Regions from separate parts of the Homo sapiens genome. Here region 2 is linked to region 1. The links come from fine-mapping of genetic effects on gene expression. Tissue or cell type: whole blood. Region 1 holds a variant in brackets; the other region holds the start of a gene. All regions are shown on one strand. Distances are between the middles of the regions.

Region 1 (8,187 bases):
GGTTTCACTGTGTTGGCCAGGCTGGTCTTGAGCACCTGACCTCAAGTCATCTGCCTGCTTTGGCCTCCCAAAGTGCTGGGATTACAAGCATGAGCCACGTGCCAAGCCATATACATTTCTTATAATATTTCAAAAAACATTGACTGAGTGTCTTTTATGTGATAGACACTATATTGGCAAATATGCATCACCCCCCAAAAATTTGATTTTTAAATCAGTTAAGGTGCTGTCAGCAGCGTGTAATATAAACTCCAACTCAGTATGACTTAAACGATAAGGAAATTTATTTTCTATTTTAACAAGAAGTTCATAAGGAGGGCTGCTCTGGGTTGAATTAACTCGGAGCTCAACCGCATCGTCAAGGATTCAAGTTTTTTTCCATCTTTAGGTTCTGCCACTTTAAGATTCTGGCTTTGTCCTCACACTATCATCCTCCCTGGGAGACAGCTGACTCAGGTGTCCCTGATGGATGCAACAATGTCTAGAGGAATAAGAGGACCATCTCTTGCATTATTTCTTTCTTGAGGAAGAGAATCTGTCTCAGGAGCCCCCTGCTCTATACACATTTCATTGGCTAGAAGGAGGCCACGTACTCAGCCCTAAAATAATTCTTAATCCCGTGAATGAGATAACCACAATAGACTTAGACAAATCAAGTCTCCTGGGCTCCTGGGACTAATTTCCCCATGTAGAATAGAATTCCTACTTGAAGAAATTGGAGTTTTGCAATGAAAAAAAATGGGGGAATGGATATTGAGTTGGCAATTGACAGCTTTTGGTTGAGGACACAGATATGTTAAAGATGACTGTTCCTTTTTCCTCAGAACTTTTGGTGAAGCCCAAATAGATGACATAGGCCCACACATTTTATGGAGAGATGATAGACATGCCTATACAACCATATGATCCTTCCCAGGCTAAGCTGTCACTCGCCCACTTCTGGATGATGTGCTTTTTGTGTGCACATTGTGTCTGGTTTCCTTTGCTTGGCGTAATATTTTTGAGATTCATCCATTGTTGCATGTATTAGTAGTTTTTTCTTTTTCTAACTTAGCAAAATTCTATGGGTTTTTTTCCATGTATCTGGGAAGATTACACCCCAACAGCATTTACAGTTTAAGGTGAGCAAGCACATCAGCTCCTTTCCAGAGAGTAGTTTGTCCCTGGAGGCCCAGTGCTCTGGAGTGTTCCCATTGCAGAGCTGTGACTCCCAAGGTCAGGAGCATGCAGAAAGAGAAGATGACAGATTGCTAGCAGACACCTGTCTGCTGCTTCCACTGCTGGAGAAGGCCCAGATACAAGTTGCATTGTACTGAGGGCTCCTGGGGATCCCCTAAGACGGTGAGGAAGTACAACTTTCTCCTTACAACTTGTCACCTACAACTTTCTTTCTCCTTACAACTTGTCACCAGAACTCCTTTTGTTCTGAGATTTTTGGACTTCGCATCTGAAGCAATAATCCAAATCACACGACAGCCTGCTGCAAAGATATTTTCCCCCTCTTGCCTGACAGAGTCCTGGAAAACAGAAGGCAGAATGAGGCAGGGAGGTTCCCCTCCTGTCTAAGTCCTACAGGGTACATTATTAGCAAACTCTTGGCCTTGAAGTTAGGAGTTGAGTCCAGTATCTAATCCAATCACTATTTTCTGTTGGAGTTATAGTAATCCCAGGCCTCAGGACACCCAGAACTATGAGCTAAACACTTAATTCCTCAGTATATTTAACTCATGTGGTTATGAGTCATTGTTAATACATTCAACAGATATGCTGGTTTCCAAGTTGCCTATCCAAAGTAAGGGTTTTAATTATTTTTCTTAGTGATTTGCTCATGTCTGCATACCAGCAGTCAGGCTTGGCTGACCAAAGCCATCTTGAAATATTTAACTTAGAATTCTGTATAGGACTAAAACACATCAAATATTTCTAAGATCTCTATCCAGAGACACAGGACACTCATCAAAGTTAAGTTCTAAACCAAGTTACAGTAGAAGGTAAAAACCAACTTTGCATTTTATACATTAATATCATATATAGAATCAATGAAATTTTACATGTTGTATTCCAGAAACAAGCATATTTTATCTTTTACAAAATTGAAAAAAAAGTTTATCTGGTAAGAAATAATTTGGAAACTTCTAGAACAGTGTCTAAGATAATGAAATTCATAAAGGTGCTTATTTTCATTTATATCTTGATATATAGCTTGAAATGCAATATGCCTCAATTTACCTGAAGCGTCAAATTAAATAAATAATAGAAGTTTGCAAAACAGGCTGTTCTTTCTTGCCACTTCGAGCTACCACTGTCTTCCTCCACCCCTATTTTGGAGGTAGGTGGGGAATAGTATATGCTTATTTTGAAATCAAACAATGTAGAAGTGCATAATGTAGAAAGTAAAAGTTTTCCCTGCTATTGACCCCCAACATAATCTCACTCCTCTAAAATAACCATTGTCTGTAGTTTGGTACATATATTTCTAGTCATTATACATATACAACTGCATTAGAATATAAACCAAATAGGATTATCATATACATATTATGCTATAACCTGCTTTTTTCACTAACAGTGAATCCTGGACATCTTTCCCTATGAACACTTACAGTTCTTCCTTGTCTTTTAATTAATTTAGTATTTTCACAGTATTCCATGGAATGGAATAAATTATATAACCAGTTGCATATTTGTAGACACTTTAGCTTCTGTTATAAATGATGCTTCAATTAATATCATTGAGTAATATTCCATTATTTAATACCTTCCCAATCTGAATTGACCTTGTTTGTTTATTCAGTAACTTGCTTATTGCCTGATACCTCCTGGAATGTAAGTTTTATGAGAGCAAGGACCTTTAGTGTTTTCCATTAGATCCTTATCCCTGAGATGGTGCCTGACAGATACCATAATTTGTGATTATTTCTGGGATCACTTGGCTGTTTCTAGAGTCCATCAATGATGCAGGGAGTCAAGGGGCACTCTGGAGAGGTGGCCGCCTCTGGTCCTCTCCCTGCCTCGTCCCACATTCAGCCCTTAGAGCTCCTTCCTGCCCAAGCAGTTCTCTTTTTGGAGAGTCTGATGCCTTGGGATCTTTCCAGTCTGAAAGCCAGGATCCAGTTTAGGTCTCAGGAATCCCACACCCACCCTGGCACCTTTCCTCTTTGCAACCAATCTGGCTGTATGGGGCCAGGACACATTTAGTCACTCGCATCCCCTGACCCCTGTGTTCTTGGCTGTATCTGATGTTCTCCTGAGGGAATGAATGCCCTTCATTGATCCAATGTGTTGGGAGCTGCACAGCAAGAAGTATTTGATATAAAAATACTTTAAGCTGGGTGTGGTGGCTCATGCCTGTAATCCCAGCATTTGGGAGGCTGAGGCAGGGGGATCACTTGAGGCCAGGAGTTCAAGACCATCCTGGCCAACATGGCAAAACCTTGTCTCTACTAAAAATACAAAATTAGCCAGGCGTGGTGGCCTGTGCCTGTAATCTCAGCTCCTCAGGAGTCTGAGGCAGGACAATCGCTTGAACCCGGGAGGTGGAAGCTGCAGTGAGCCGAGATTGTGCCACTGAACTGCAGCCTGGGCAACAGAGTGAGACTCAAAAAACAAAACAAAACAAAAAACTTTAAAATATTTATTTTTCTTTTGGATAAAAGTAACAAAATCCTTTAAATATCACCATGACTACTGAAGGGTAATGATTATGCTCATGAAATAAAACTTAAATCAGCGACAAACCAATGCTTTCATCTAGGTAGTGTCAGAAAGGGGGAAAATTCTGAGGCCTAAGCTGATATCCTATAGCTGCCTCTTCCCTCACCCACCCCATGTTTCCCTCTTCATCCGCCAGCCTTTCATTTGGTTGGAGGCTTTTTTCCAAGTGAAGACACAAACTGTCATTCCTAAATGATTAAGGTCTTGGTGGGCCTGTCTTTGTTGGGTTGCCACAGTTTTCCAAGGAGTGCAGTGGTGCGATCTCAGCTCACTGCAACTTCCGCCTCCCAGGTTCAAGTGATTCTCCTGCCTCAGCCTCCCAAGTAGCTAGGACTACAGGCATGCGCCACCACACCCAGCTGATTTTTGTGTTTTTAGTAGAGATGGAGTTTTGCCATGTTGGCTAGAGTGGTCTCAAACTCCTGGCCTCAAGTGATCTGCCTGCCTGGGCCTCCCAAAGTGCTGGATTACAGGCATGAGCCACCACGCTTGGCCTCTTGTTAGATATTATATGTTCTGTTATTTTGGTTATCTTCTTCGGGGTCACTAGTTATATAAATATTAATTTTCTTTGTCTTCTGTAACTACCATTTTCTCTTTCAATTTATTTAACTCTTAGTCATTTTTATTTATTTTACTATTTTCATTCCTCTTCTCTATGTCCATTATCATGTTATAGGAAATGTGTATTTTCTGTGCTGCTTCCAATTCTTTTCTATTTCTTTCCAGAGTTTTGGCAGTAATTCATGTTTTGCCTCCTTGTATCTTTTCCCCATGTCATCTCCAAGCTCTTATATTGTGTATTTCTTTTACAGTGTTGATTGTTTCACTGATTTCTAAAACTTGTAAAAATGATACGTTTTGTCAAACATGTTATCTACCCTATAGCAATATTTTCTGGGAGGGATTCTGTGTCATTTGTTTGTCTTGTTTCTCTTCTTTTCTTTTTCTTGTAGCTTTATTGTATAGGTCCTCAGTTCCACTTTAAAATTGCTATTCATTTTTTGATGAGTTGAATTGCTTCTGAACCAACTATTGTGTAAGAGTTCATGTAAGTGAGAAGCCAGAGTATTGTTCCAG[C/T]GTAACAGGAATTCTTATTTTGACACAGGATTGTGCATACGACCTCTTTCAATCTTTTCTCTAACTAATTATCAACACAGGGCTAAGAAGAAAGCAGAGCCTCTTCTTTTTCACTTTATTTACAAATAGATTTACCAAATACCTCTGTAGTTTGTCTGAGTGAGTGCTCATTTAGTTATACCTCCCCCTGATTTTTGAGAATGTATGTTGATGTTAAACCTGCCACTGGAGAATGTGGCTTATTGTGAGAGTCAAATGGGCTTGCTTGTGTTCCTGGCCTCCTGATCCTCCCAAGATTAGATCTTAGAACACATCACCCAAGGCAAAATTTGGTCTTCAGAACAGACCCATTTACCTGAGTGTGTGTGATAGAGGCTTGACGTGTGGTTTTCTTAGGAATTCTTAAGTGGTGTTCCAAAAGCTTCACACACACACACACACACACAGATACACAGATACACACACACACAGACATGCACTTGATATTTATAAATTTTAAAACCTAGGGTGCCAATTACACCTTTTTGTTTGCCTTAGTAAACAGGGCTTTATAACCAGTAAATGGTCCTGTGTCCCAATCCAGAGAAATATGGAAGAAGGGTCTTAGTAAAATATTTTAAAAATCATAAGGTTCTATTATTCCCATGGGTCTCTGTTCTATGTATGAGACATAATCTTAACTCCTTGGTATATCTCAAGTTCCGTGCCGTGAGGACCTGGTCTAGAGCTTGAAGTACAGATGACAGTGGACTTTATCACCTCCTCCCACTCCCAGAAAATGAGGAGGAGGAACTGTAACATGCATCCCAGTCTGAATACCAGACTCTAGTCCTGAAAAACATAAAATCAACCCAAACCTTGATGTAATCACTATACATTACATATATCAAAACGTTGTTGTGTATCCCACAAATAGGTACAATTATTATGTGTCAATTAAACAATTAAAAAATTAAAAAAATTTTTGGCCGGGTGTAGTGGATCATGTCTGTAATCCCGGCACTTTGGGAGGCTGAGGTGGGTGGATCATCCTGGCCAACCAACATGGTGAAACCGTGTCTCTACTAAAAATACAAAAATTAGCTGGGCATAGTGGCACGTGCCTGTAGTCCCAGCTACTTGGGAGGCTGAGGCAGGAGAATCACTTGAACCTGGGAGGCAGAAGTTGCAGTAGACGAGATCACATCACTGCACTCCAGCCAGGGTGACAGAGCAAGACTTTGTCTCAAAACAAAACAAAACAAAAATTTTAAAGACAGAAAAATGCTGTTGAGAGTCACTGAGTTCAGGGTCTATAGTGTGCAGGTTATCTTGCCAAAATATCATATACTTTTTCTTCTTGGCTATATTCTAGAGGTTGAATGGCAGATCTAGCAGTGATAGAAGAATATCTTTGGGAGACTCTAGTGGTCTCCTGGGCCACAGCTGGGGCTTACCTTTCACTGATGTATTAAGTATTCTTATTGGAACATTTTGTCCTCTTGGTTAAAAATAATGAATCTTTGGTTTAAGTGTCAGATGGTTAGGAAAGTTATTTTTGCTATTGGCAAACATATTAAGAGGAAAAATTGACTCATCTGGTCTAGAGGGAAAGGACTAGGTTAAATTCTAAAATCAAAACCTAATCTCTTAGCAGCTTAGGCAGTAGGCAAGTACAGACAAGAAACTTAGGCCCTTCACAGTTCAGCCTATGTAGGAACTATCCATCAATTTGGGAAATGCTGATCAAAATTCGATGGTCCCCATGAACACTTAGCCATGGCTACTAGGACAAAGCGAGCTATAAACAGACAACTTTCTCAGCTCCATGGGCTCCTGTGCCTCTGTCAGAACTCAAGGGCCTGGGTCAACTGCATGGCTCTAAGGGACATGGGTGAATATATTGCTGGAGTTTCCAGAGAAAAACGGGGGTTTATCTTCTGCAGAAAGCCACGAATGCCTTAGATTCTCCCTAACCTCAGATCTCACTTTTGAGCAGTTTCTCAACTTGAGGTTGAGGCATATAGAAGTAAATTGTGGTGATGTGTTGCCCACTGCTGGGGGCACTTGAGGTACTGGTGGTGTGTGCACTAGGGTGTGGACAGGAGGAATCGGCCCTGGTGGGTGTTCCACTGAACGCAGCCTACCTCAGCTTCCTCTCCTTCACCTGTGTCCCTGATGTCTCACCCTGGGAGGCTCCTCTGTCTTCCCTGTGCGGGAACAAATCAGCAGGTCTGGGCTTTATTTGTGGGGGTGGGAGTCAAATCTGGAGAAGGGACTGAAGAGAAAGAAGCAGGCACAGAGGTTCCCAATAAACATGTGGTGATTGCCAACTAAAGAGAATATGGTTCCAGAGAAAGGAGAAGCGCAGGATTGAGGAGCCAAGGGGAGTTTGAACTGGATGCACCGGTGGCTTTTCCCGACCTCAGCGGTGTGGGCTGCCCCTTCCTGGCCTGCAGGTGTGTGGCCCACATCCCCAGAAATAATGGCTGCTTCAGGCTCAGACTCAGGTAGATGTGGCTGAATCCACGAATTAGCTAGATTTGTGCTTAGTGGATTTTCTTTTTAAAAAAGCAGATTCTTGGCTGTGTGTGGTGGCTCATGCCTGTAATCCCAGCATTTTGAGAGGCCAAGGCAGGTGGATCACTTGACGTCAGGAATTCAAGACCAGCCTGGCCAACATGGTGAACACCTGTCTCTATTAAAAATACAAAAATTAGCTGGGTGTGGTGGCAGGCACCTGTAATCACAGCTACTCAGGAGGCTGAGGCAGGAGAATCAGTTGAACCCAGGAGGTGGATGTTGCACTGAGAAAATGTTGCGCCACTGCACTCCAGCCTAGGTGACAAAGCAAGACTCTGTTTCAAAATAAATAAGTAAATAAATAAATAAGCAGATTCTTAATGATGACATATGATATATTAATAGAGTCTCCTTATAAAAATGTAAACATTACAGATCAGGCTAAAGTCTGCTTTGTTCATCACTTACAATACTGACCCCCTCCACAGAGATAACCCATGTTTCTATATTTTCCTGGACTTCCCCTATGCATTTATATACATGTAACCATAGAAAACATATAGTATTATTCTATGGGGTGAAGGTTGTTAACACACATGGTATCATTATGCATGTAGATACATTTATAAGTAATAATAGAAAATATTAGTGTGGTTTTGTGGGGTGGATGTAGTTTATATACATGGTATTATTGTGTAAGTGTAATTTTGCAAGTTTTTTTGTGCTTAAAAATATTTTGGGAATTGATATGGTTTGGCTCTATGTCCCCACCCAAATCTCACCTTGAATTGTAATAATCCCTACATGTCATGGGAGGGACACACTGGGAGGTAACTGAATCATGGGGGCAGGTTTTTCTTGTTATGGTGAATAAATCTCATGAGATTTGAT
Region 2 (8,187 bases), 43 kb after region 1:
GTGATTAAATTTGCTCAGGAGAAAGGTGAAAGAAGGGTTCGCTAAAAACAGTTATTGCTTTAACTGAGAACTGAAGGAATTGAGCAGGTGAAGAAAGGTAGGTAGACAGACGGCTCACCAGAGGATAGAGTGTGTGTAAAGATACAGAGGTGATGGACAGTAATATGGATTTGAATTCTCCAAATAGGTCAGTTGGCTGAAGCAGAGTGTGCAATGTGGGAAGGTACAAGATGAGAGACTGGACAAGCAGCCAGGGTCCCACATGAAGGGCCTGGAGTGCTCTAGAACCAGGTCTTTTTTTCCCCAGCTTTAGGGAAAATGATGAAGGATTTTAACCCTAAAGTGGACTGCACAAATTTGAATTATAATAAAATCATTGTGGCACCACTAGAGAGACTGAAGATTAGGGAGTTAACTTTTGCTTTGTTTTTGTTGTTTTCATTTTGTTTTGTTGAGTTGAAGTCTCACTCTGTTGCCCAGACTGGAGTGCAGTGGAACGATCATAGCTCACTGCAGCCTCCAACTCTTGGGCTTAAGTGATCCTCCCACCTCAGCCTCCAGAGTAGATGGGACTACAGGTGTGCGCCACAGAGATTTTATTTTTGGTCTAACAAGACTTTGTATTCAAGGCACTTGTAAGAAGGAAAAAGAGAGACAGAGCTAAACAGAGGTAAAACAATCACCCAGTTTAATTTTTATCTAAATGAAGTTTGCAAATAAGTAGCAAAGTCTGAAATTTACACATTGCATTCTAAATCATAAGAAATATTATCTTGTTTATCCAATCAGGACAAGGGCCTAAAAAAAAACCAGTTAAAGATGACATTATGGTCCATGTAGACAGAGAAGACTATCAGATTAGAGTGCTCAAAGGGACAAATCGCAGCTTTTCTGGGTTTCAGTTTCTTCATCTGTATAATGAAGGGTTCGGGGGTTCTTTACCTGAGCTATATTTCAATATAATTTGTTTTCTTTGTAATCCTACACATTTTATTTATTTAAATATTAAAACTTCTCTTATCTTGAGAAGGGGTTAATGTCATAAAAAAGGTTAAGAAGCTCTATATGATCTTTAGGGTCACTTACAACTCTCAACTTATAGGATTTTGGACATTCAAATACAGGAACTAAAAGAGAATACTACTGTATATGGATAAATAGGAAAGGGGCAGTAGGAAAAACACAATAGTATACACTGAGAAATTACATATAGGGATTAAAAGTCTGAGCCAGGGTGACATTATTTTTGCCTTTTCATTTCTCTTTCCTTTCTTCTATAGACTTAGGTTAATGCTGGTATTGTGACTGCTTGATGGCTCTCTTCTTTTGTATCCTTAAATTTACTGAAGTATGATTTATAGCAAAAAAAAAAACTTCATTAGTAAAGGCTATGAGAAAGGTTAGTTATAAGTGGAAAATTATATAATGAAGAGATTGGTAGTATTAGCAATCATATAAAAGAGGTAAGAACAAAAAGCCTTCTTGATAATATCCAGGCACAAAACTACTTGGGAAAGAAGCTAGGTAAATTAAAAAGTAATTTTTTTGAAAGTAAAAAAAATTTGGTTTTAAAAAGACGTGCAGAACAAAGCTAGTTGCTACCATCTTATAATTACAGGCATTTAATAGCAGGGATGCATCTCTCTTGAGTCTAGGTGATATGAATTTATAAGGTCACTGTTAGCATTCAAACTTAAAATGGTCAGCCAGGTGCAGTAGCTCGCGCCTGTAATCCTAGCACTTTGGGATGCTGAGGCAGGACGGATCACTTGAGCCTAGGAGTTTGAGACCAGCCTGGGCAACATAGTAAGACCCCATCTCTAAAAGAAAAAACAAAAACCTTAAAATGTATGTAGTTACCACATACAAAGGAAATTAGATTTAAAAAATTTAGGAACACTATTAAAACATGAACACTACAAAACATATTATCATCAGCAAAAAAGTGAATGAATGATGTAATTATTGCTTCACAGTGTTCTCACTATATACTTCATATTGAATCAGATTGAACCATCAAAATGGTTCTGATTCATGAAAGTCTCAGTGCATCATTTGTTCAGTTCAAAAGGACATCTAGCATCAGTTTGAAAAAAACCACTGAAAGATAACAATAATATAATCTGTACTATCCTTTTAAATAACATCTACTTAGTATTTATAAGCTTTCCTATTCCAGACATGAGTCCACAATGAGGCAGTCAGACAACTATTCAACTGAACAACAATAGAAAACTTTCAAAGCTGCAAAATCAAATCTAATCAATTTTAAAAATAGTATATATATTAAATTTGTAGGGATTTCCTCTCTTAGCAACAATCTGAGGGAAAAAAGCCTTTACTATTCTGTTTTTCTGGAGAAAAACTACAAAAACAATGCATGTGTCTAGTTTCCTTCAGGAGACTTAACAACCTAACAAATCTGTATGGGAAGGCAGGTTCCTGTCTGTACAGGTAGCTTTCTTCTCACACTCCCTAGTAATTTGCATATCTCTAAACCAGAGACAGGTAACTAAGGCACCTAAGGCAATCTTTAGTGTCACTGTACTCCTCCCAAGTGGTTTCTTTTAACAAGTATCTTATAAAGAACATATAAGTGCTATGCTTAGAAAACAAAGTCACTTTTTAGTGACTTTGTGATAGCCTTAAAATACAGTCTACAGCAACAAAATATTCTGATAATTTATTTATTTCAGAAAAACTGTACCAAGTGAATATTACAACTACTTATAAAAACTTGTAAATTTCTTCAGTTTTAGTCCAGGCAATAAATATTACATGTTCAGTGAAGTAGAAAAATATTCAGAATTCGCATTTCTAGAAGAACTATCATACTTGATTCAGGAAAGCAAAATATTTTCTAGGTACAAGGTATTTAGAAATCATGTGTAACCATACTTCATTATATAAAATGAACCCTATTCAAACGAATCTACTAAACAGGGCCGCAAAGGTACACAAAACATAAGTCAGTAGAGGGATTTAATTTTCAAAAGGACTTTTCAAAACACAACTTGTACACAACTTGAAGAAATCGGCTCTGTTTAAAAATAGACTTATTTTTACTAGTTTATTCTAGAACAGAGCATAAACTACTATTCAATAAACGTATGAAGCACTACTCACCTCCATTTCCACCGCGGCAATACTCTGGTCATAATGACCCATCAGATTAGGGAAAAACGTCATGTTGTAGGCCATTTTCATACATCTGGGAACAGTAATTGGTTCACAGGTGAAGAGACTGTGCCCTCTTAGGAGGGGTAGAAAAATACACGTCAACAAAAATGTAAACATTTCCATTTTCTTCAAATTCCTGATTTTACCACATGGCTTGGATGAATCACTCTTTGCATCCTCAGAAGATCCCCATCCAAAGATAAAATGTTCAAATTCCTCATTTCACTATTTTACTCATTTTCAGGCTTTCCTGAAAATGAGTCCTGGGTCAATTACTGTAAAAACAAAAGGAGGGTGTATCAGCAACATTTGTCATAAACTCAAATGTGGAGTCAAAGTGCAGAGTTAAGATTTTCACCCCAGGTAACAAACACTGGAAAAACAACGGAAAATTCTGTCCTAACGAGATACTCTTCCACCTGCCTTAGCATGGAATATATCATTTGCTAAGGAAGCTGCACCTCTAGGAAACCGATGCTAGGAGGTTGGTGCTGTATGGAAGACAGGGTTAAAAAGAGGGAATGGCAAGAGTAAGATGGAGGAAAAAAGGAAAGCTGGTGATTCGGAGTAAATTATAAAGGATTAATATAAGCATACAATCTAAGGGCCCCTGTTGGAAAGCTTATTAAGTACAAGAAAACTAAGGCCCTGGGAAATTCCTTAAGACCCAAAGAGTTCTTAAACTTGTAAAAGACTCTGAAGAGTCAGTTTTTGTGGCAGTCTTCTGGGTATGTAGTTTTCTCGATTTTCGTAAGGCCAACTAGAGGGAGACTTTTAGGATTCCTCCAGTGGAGGAGCAACATTGCAGTTTTCACTGGCTAGGAGGGTGTAGTGCTGCCGTCGAAAGGAAAGTGCGCAAATCTGTCCCGGGGGAAGGGCGAAGGCAGTCCCCTTGCGGGAGGAAGGCTGTAGGCCCCGGATTACGAATTACCCGCGCCCCAACACACACTGATGCCCGGTCCGCCAGCGCCCCACACCCGGGAACCTGCCCCAGGCCTAGAGCCAGACAGCAGCGTTCCTGGCCTGCGCGGCGCCGCGGGGCCCCGGCATCGCCTTTCAGAGCCGGTTCCCGCTTCCGAGGAAACTCAGGTGCGGGCCGTCCCGCCGTTGCCTCCCCAGCACCTGCGGCTCCCGGCGCGCCTCATCCCAGCCGCGGCCCCTCGCCCCTCGAGGCCCTCCCCGCTTCCCCCGGCACCCGCCCGGCCCCTGCCCAGTCCCAGCCGTGGAAGCCTCACCTCGGGGGGCGGTCGAAGGCCGCTGTCCCTTCCCGTCCCCGTCTAACCCACCGTTCCCCCCAGGGACCTGAGACGGCTCCGGGGTTGCGTCCGGGACTGGAGCTGCCTCGAGAGCCGCACGGGGAGCGAGAGCTGAGCGATCCCGCGAGACTGCGCCGCCAGGTCGGGCGGGCAGGTCCGGGCTCGCGGCGGCGGCGGCGGCGGCGGCGGCGGCGGCGGCGGGACTGGCCCTGCGCCCGGGCACCGCCTGCGCTGCGCCGCCCGGCCTCACTCCGCGGCCCGCCAGGACCCGGCCCCGGTGAACGGGCTCGGGGTGCCGAGGTCCGGCTGCGGGGCCGGGAAGCCACCTCCACCTTGCCGTCTGTTACGACCCCCGAGGCGCAAGGCTGAGCCCCATCTCGCTATCCGGGTCCGGAGGGGTTCACCTTAGAAGGATTTTTTGAAGCTCTTGGCGCTGGCTCTAAAAGAACCCACTTCCTTGCGGATTTCAGGAGTCAAGAATCCTTAAACGGAGCCAATTTGCTTTGTAAAGCCAATTGCCCAAGTGACTTGAGTTCGAAAGGAGATACTTCCTGGACAACTGCTATAAAAACAACAACAAATACTTTTATTAATTCGGGGAGCCTGGTCACCAACTGGATGCTCAGGTAGCAGTGGGATTCCAGCCCTGGCGGGTCCCACAGTTTTATTGATACAAACCCTAATAGGAAGTTGAACTGCTGTAGAAATCAACCTAGTTTGGGGTACCAACTCTGTCATAGATATTAGATAAATTACCCTAATCTTTAAGGGGCATAGTTTCCTCACAATATAGGAATGACAATAGTTGTAATGATGGTTAACGTTAATTGAGCACTGGCTGTAAGTCAAATAGTGCCAAGTTCGTTACAAGTGTTTACACCTAACCTGTAAGGCCCTCCTATGAAACAGGCAGAATAGTATGAGAAGCAAATGAACTTGTAGAAGTACTTTGAAAAATGCAAAGTAACTTGTAGATGGAGGCTATTCTTGTCAGATAAATCATCCTGTTGCAGAAAAGGAATGTCATATTTCCATACCTAGAAGGACAACCCTGAACAACCAGAGTAAGAGTTTTGGAATCTGTGGGGAAAGACGAATTTGGAGTGGGGAATTCCTCCCCAGTTTTATCAAAAGCTTACTGATGTTGGGAGACAGGTAGTGATGAAGAAATATTAACATCATTAAGAGCTGGATAGTTGATGTATTGCAGAATAAATTTCTATGTAGGAAGAATATTTTCCCCTAAATTTCTAATTTTCTACATTGGAAGACTATTTCTCTCCAGTTTCTACGAACTTAATGAGATCTTTTTGTGATCAGGCTCTAGTGACTACCAGGCAGTGAAGTATCACTAAAAGTATCATTTAAAAACGATACTTTTTAAAATATCGTTTGAAAACGATACTTTTAAAGTATCATTTGAAAACGATAGTTTTGAAATTCAAGTGAATACTTGTTCCATTATTTGGAAGGAAAAATTGTAGTAAGTTGATTTATACAGAAGTAAATAAAGCCTGTTTTATTTTTCATTGTATTTAATTATATAGTGAGCAGTGATGAACTAGAATGATTTTTTTTTTGTCAGGATGGATTTGGAATACTTAGGCAATCATCTATATCATCGCTTGTCTTTCACTGTACAATTTCATCCCAATGGTACGAGATTAAGAACACAAACTTTGGAGTTCAAAATCCCTGGGTTCAAAACCTAGCTCCAGCATTTACTTGCTGTGTGAACTTGAGCAAATTATTCAGATCCTCTTTAGTTTCTTCATCTGTAAATATGGAACTATCTGACGGTTTTCCTCATTTTCCTTCTCTTTCTCTTTGCATTGTTCCTCTGGGCTGATGCTAGGGGACAGTGGTGACCAAAAGTAGAAGAAACAGACTTTTACTTTTAAAGGCTAATTTTGCAAGGTACAGAATTATAGGTTGGTAGTTTTTTTCTCTGAACACTTTTACTCCACCTCTCTTCTTGTCTACGTGGTTTCTGAGAAGTTGGATGTCATTCTTTATTTTTGTTCCTCTATAGGTAAGCTCCTCATCATTAAGTATATTGTTACCTTAGGGTTTTTGTAGATGTTCTTTAGCAAGTGAGAAAGTTCCCCCTCTGTCCCTAGTTTGCTGAAAGTTTTTATGATGAAAATGTGCTGGATTTTGTCAAATGCATTTTCTGCATCTATTGATGTGGTCATGTGATTTTTCTTCTTTAGTCTATTGGTATGGTAGATTACATGAATGAATTTTCAAATATTGGACCAGCCTTGCATACCTGGGATAAATCTTGGTTATGCTGTACAATTCTTTTTATGCATTGCTGGATTCTACTAGCTAATATTTTGTTGAGGATTTTTACATCTTTGTTCAAGAGATATATTGGTTTATAGTTTTCTTTGCTAGTAATGTTTTTGTCTGGTTTTGGTATTAGGGCAATGCTGCTAGGAAGTATTCCCCCTGCTTCTATCTTCTGGAAGAGATTTTAGAGAGTTGGTCTAACATTGTTGGTGACTGACATTAATTTGGGGAAATTTTCAGTCACTATTGCTTCAAATATTTCTTCTGTTCCTTTCTCTAATTCTTCTCCTGGTATTCCTGTTACACATATGTTATACTTTTGTAGTTGTTTCACAGTTCTTGGATATTGTTTCTTTTTTTTAAGTCCTTTTTCTCTTTATTTTTCAATTTTGGAAGTTTCCATTGACATATCCTCAAACTCAGAGATTCTTTTCTCAACCATGTCCAGTCTATTAATGAATCCATCAAAGGCATGCTTCATTTCTGTTATAGAATTTTATATCTCTAGCAATTCTTATTCTTCCTTAAAATTTTCATTTCTGCTTACATTAACCGTCTGTTCTTTCAAGTTGTCTACGTTTACCTTTACAACCCTTAGTATATTAATCACAGTTATTTGAAGTTCCTGGTCTGATAATTCCAACATCTCTGCCGTATGTGAGTCTAGTTCTGATGATTGCTTTGCCTCTTCAAACTGTGTTTTTTGCTCTGTAGTGTGCCTTGTAATTTTTAGTTGAAAGCTGGACATGATGCACTGGGTGAAAGGCACTGGAGTAAATGGGCTTCAGTGATGCGGTGTTAAGATGTGGGAGGAGGGGAAACATTCTATAGACCTATGATTAGATTTCAGTCTTAGTGAGCTTGTGTCCCTAGGCTGGAAACTTCACAAGTGCTTCTTAGTTTTTATCCCCCTTCTTGGGTGGGACAGGATGTCTAGAGGGGGCTGGGGTTGGATATTTCCCATCTATCAGCTTGGTTAGGCTCTGCTAAAACTGTAATAGGTTAGGCTCTGGTAGTTTCTCTTGAGGGCAGGCCTTGTTAAAAAGAACAGAATATTTTGACATATTTCAAAATGGTTCTTTTCACCTCTCCCTGTTGGATGTAGGAGGTGATTTTTCTTTGATTTTCACTGAGAGAACCTGGAAGAACTCCTGGAGGTAAAACTTACAAAAGTGTGAGTGTGCCCTCCAAAGACTAGGCCCCCTCCCCCTTTGTGTGTGTGTGTGTGTGTGTGTGTGTGTGTGTGTTTGTGTGTGTGTGTGTCTCACTCTGTTGCCAGGCTGGAGTGCAGTGGCGTGATCTTGGCTCACTGCAACCTCCGCCTCCTGGGTTCAAATGGTTCTCCCACCTCACCCTCCCGAGTAGCTGGGATTATAGGTGCACACCACCATGCCCAGCTAATTTTTGTATTTTTAGTAGAGACGGGGTTTCACCGTATTGGCCAGGATGGTCTCTG

The links. PIP is the estimated chance that this variant, and not a neighbour inherited with it, causes the effect.
Region 2: it holds the start of FZD6, and the variant in region 1 is fine-mapped to the expression of FZD6 in whole blood (TOPMed, PIP above 0.99).

What each region holds. Positions count from the first base shown.
Region 1 is chr8:103,338,535-103,346,721 of GRCh38, reverse strand. No RefSeq gene overlaps it. Among named protein-coding and RNA genes, the nearest start is that of CTHRC1, 29 kb to the left of the region's middle. The variant C/T (reference allele first, on the strand shown) is at 4,795.
Region 2 is chr8:103,295,224-103,303,410 of GRCh38, reverse strand. It overlaps FZD6 (frizzled class receptor 6), which reads right to left and starts at 4,513. Exons shown (of 7, transcript NM_003506.4): 1 at 4,416-4,513; 2 at 3,127-3,455. The coding sequence starts at 3,303. It overlaps LOC105369147 (a long non-coding RNA gene), which reads left to right and starts at 4,593. Exons shown (of 2, transcript NR_148216.1): 1 at 4,593-5,062. RefSeq lists enhancers at 4,033-4,082, 3,936-4,436, 4,437-4,937 and silencers at 4,076-4,370, 4,233-4,482, 4,603-4,772, 4,783-4,832.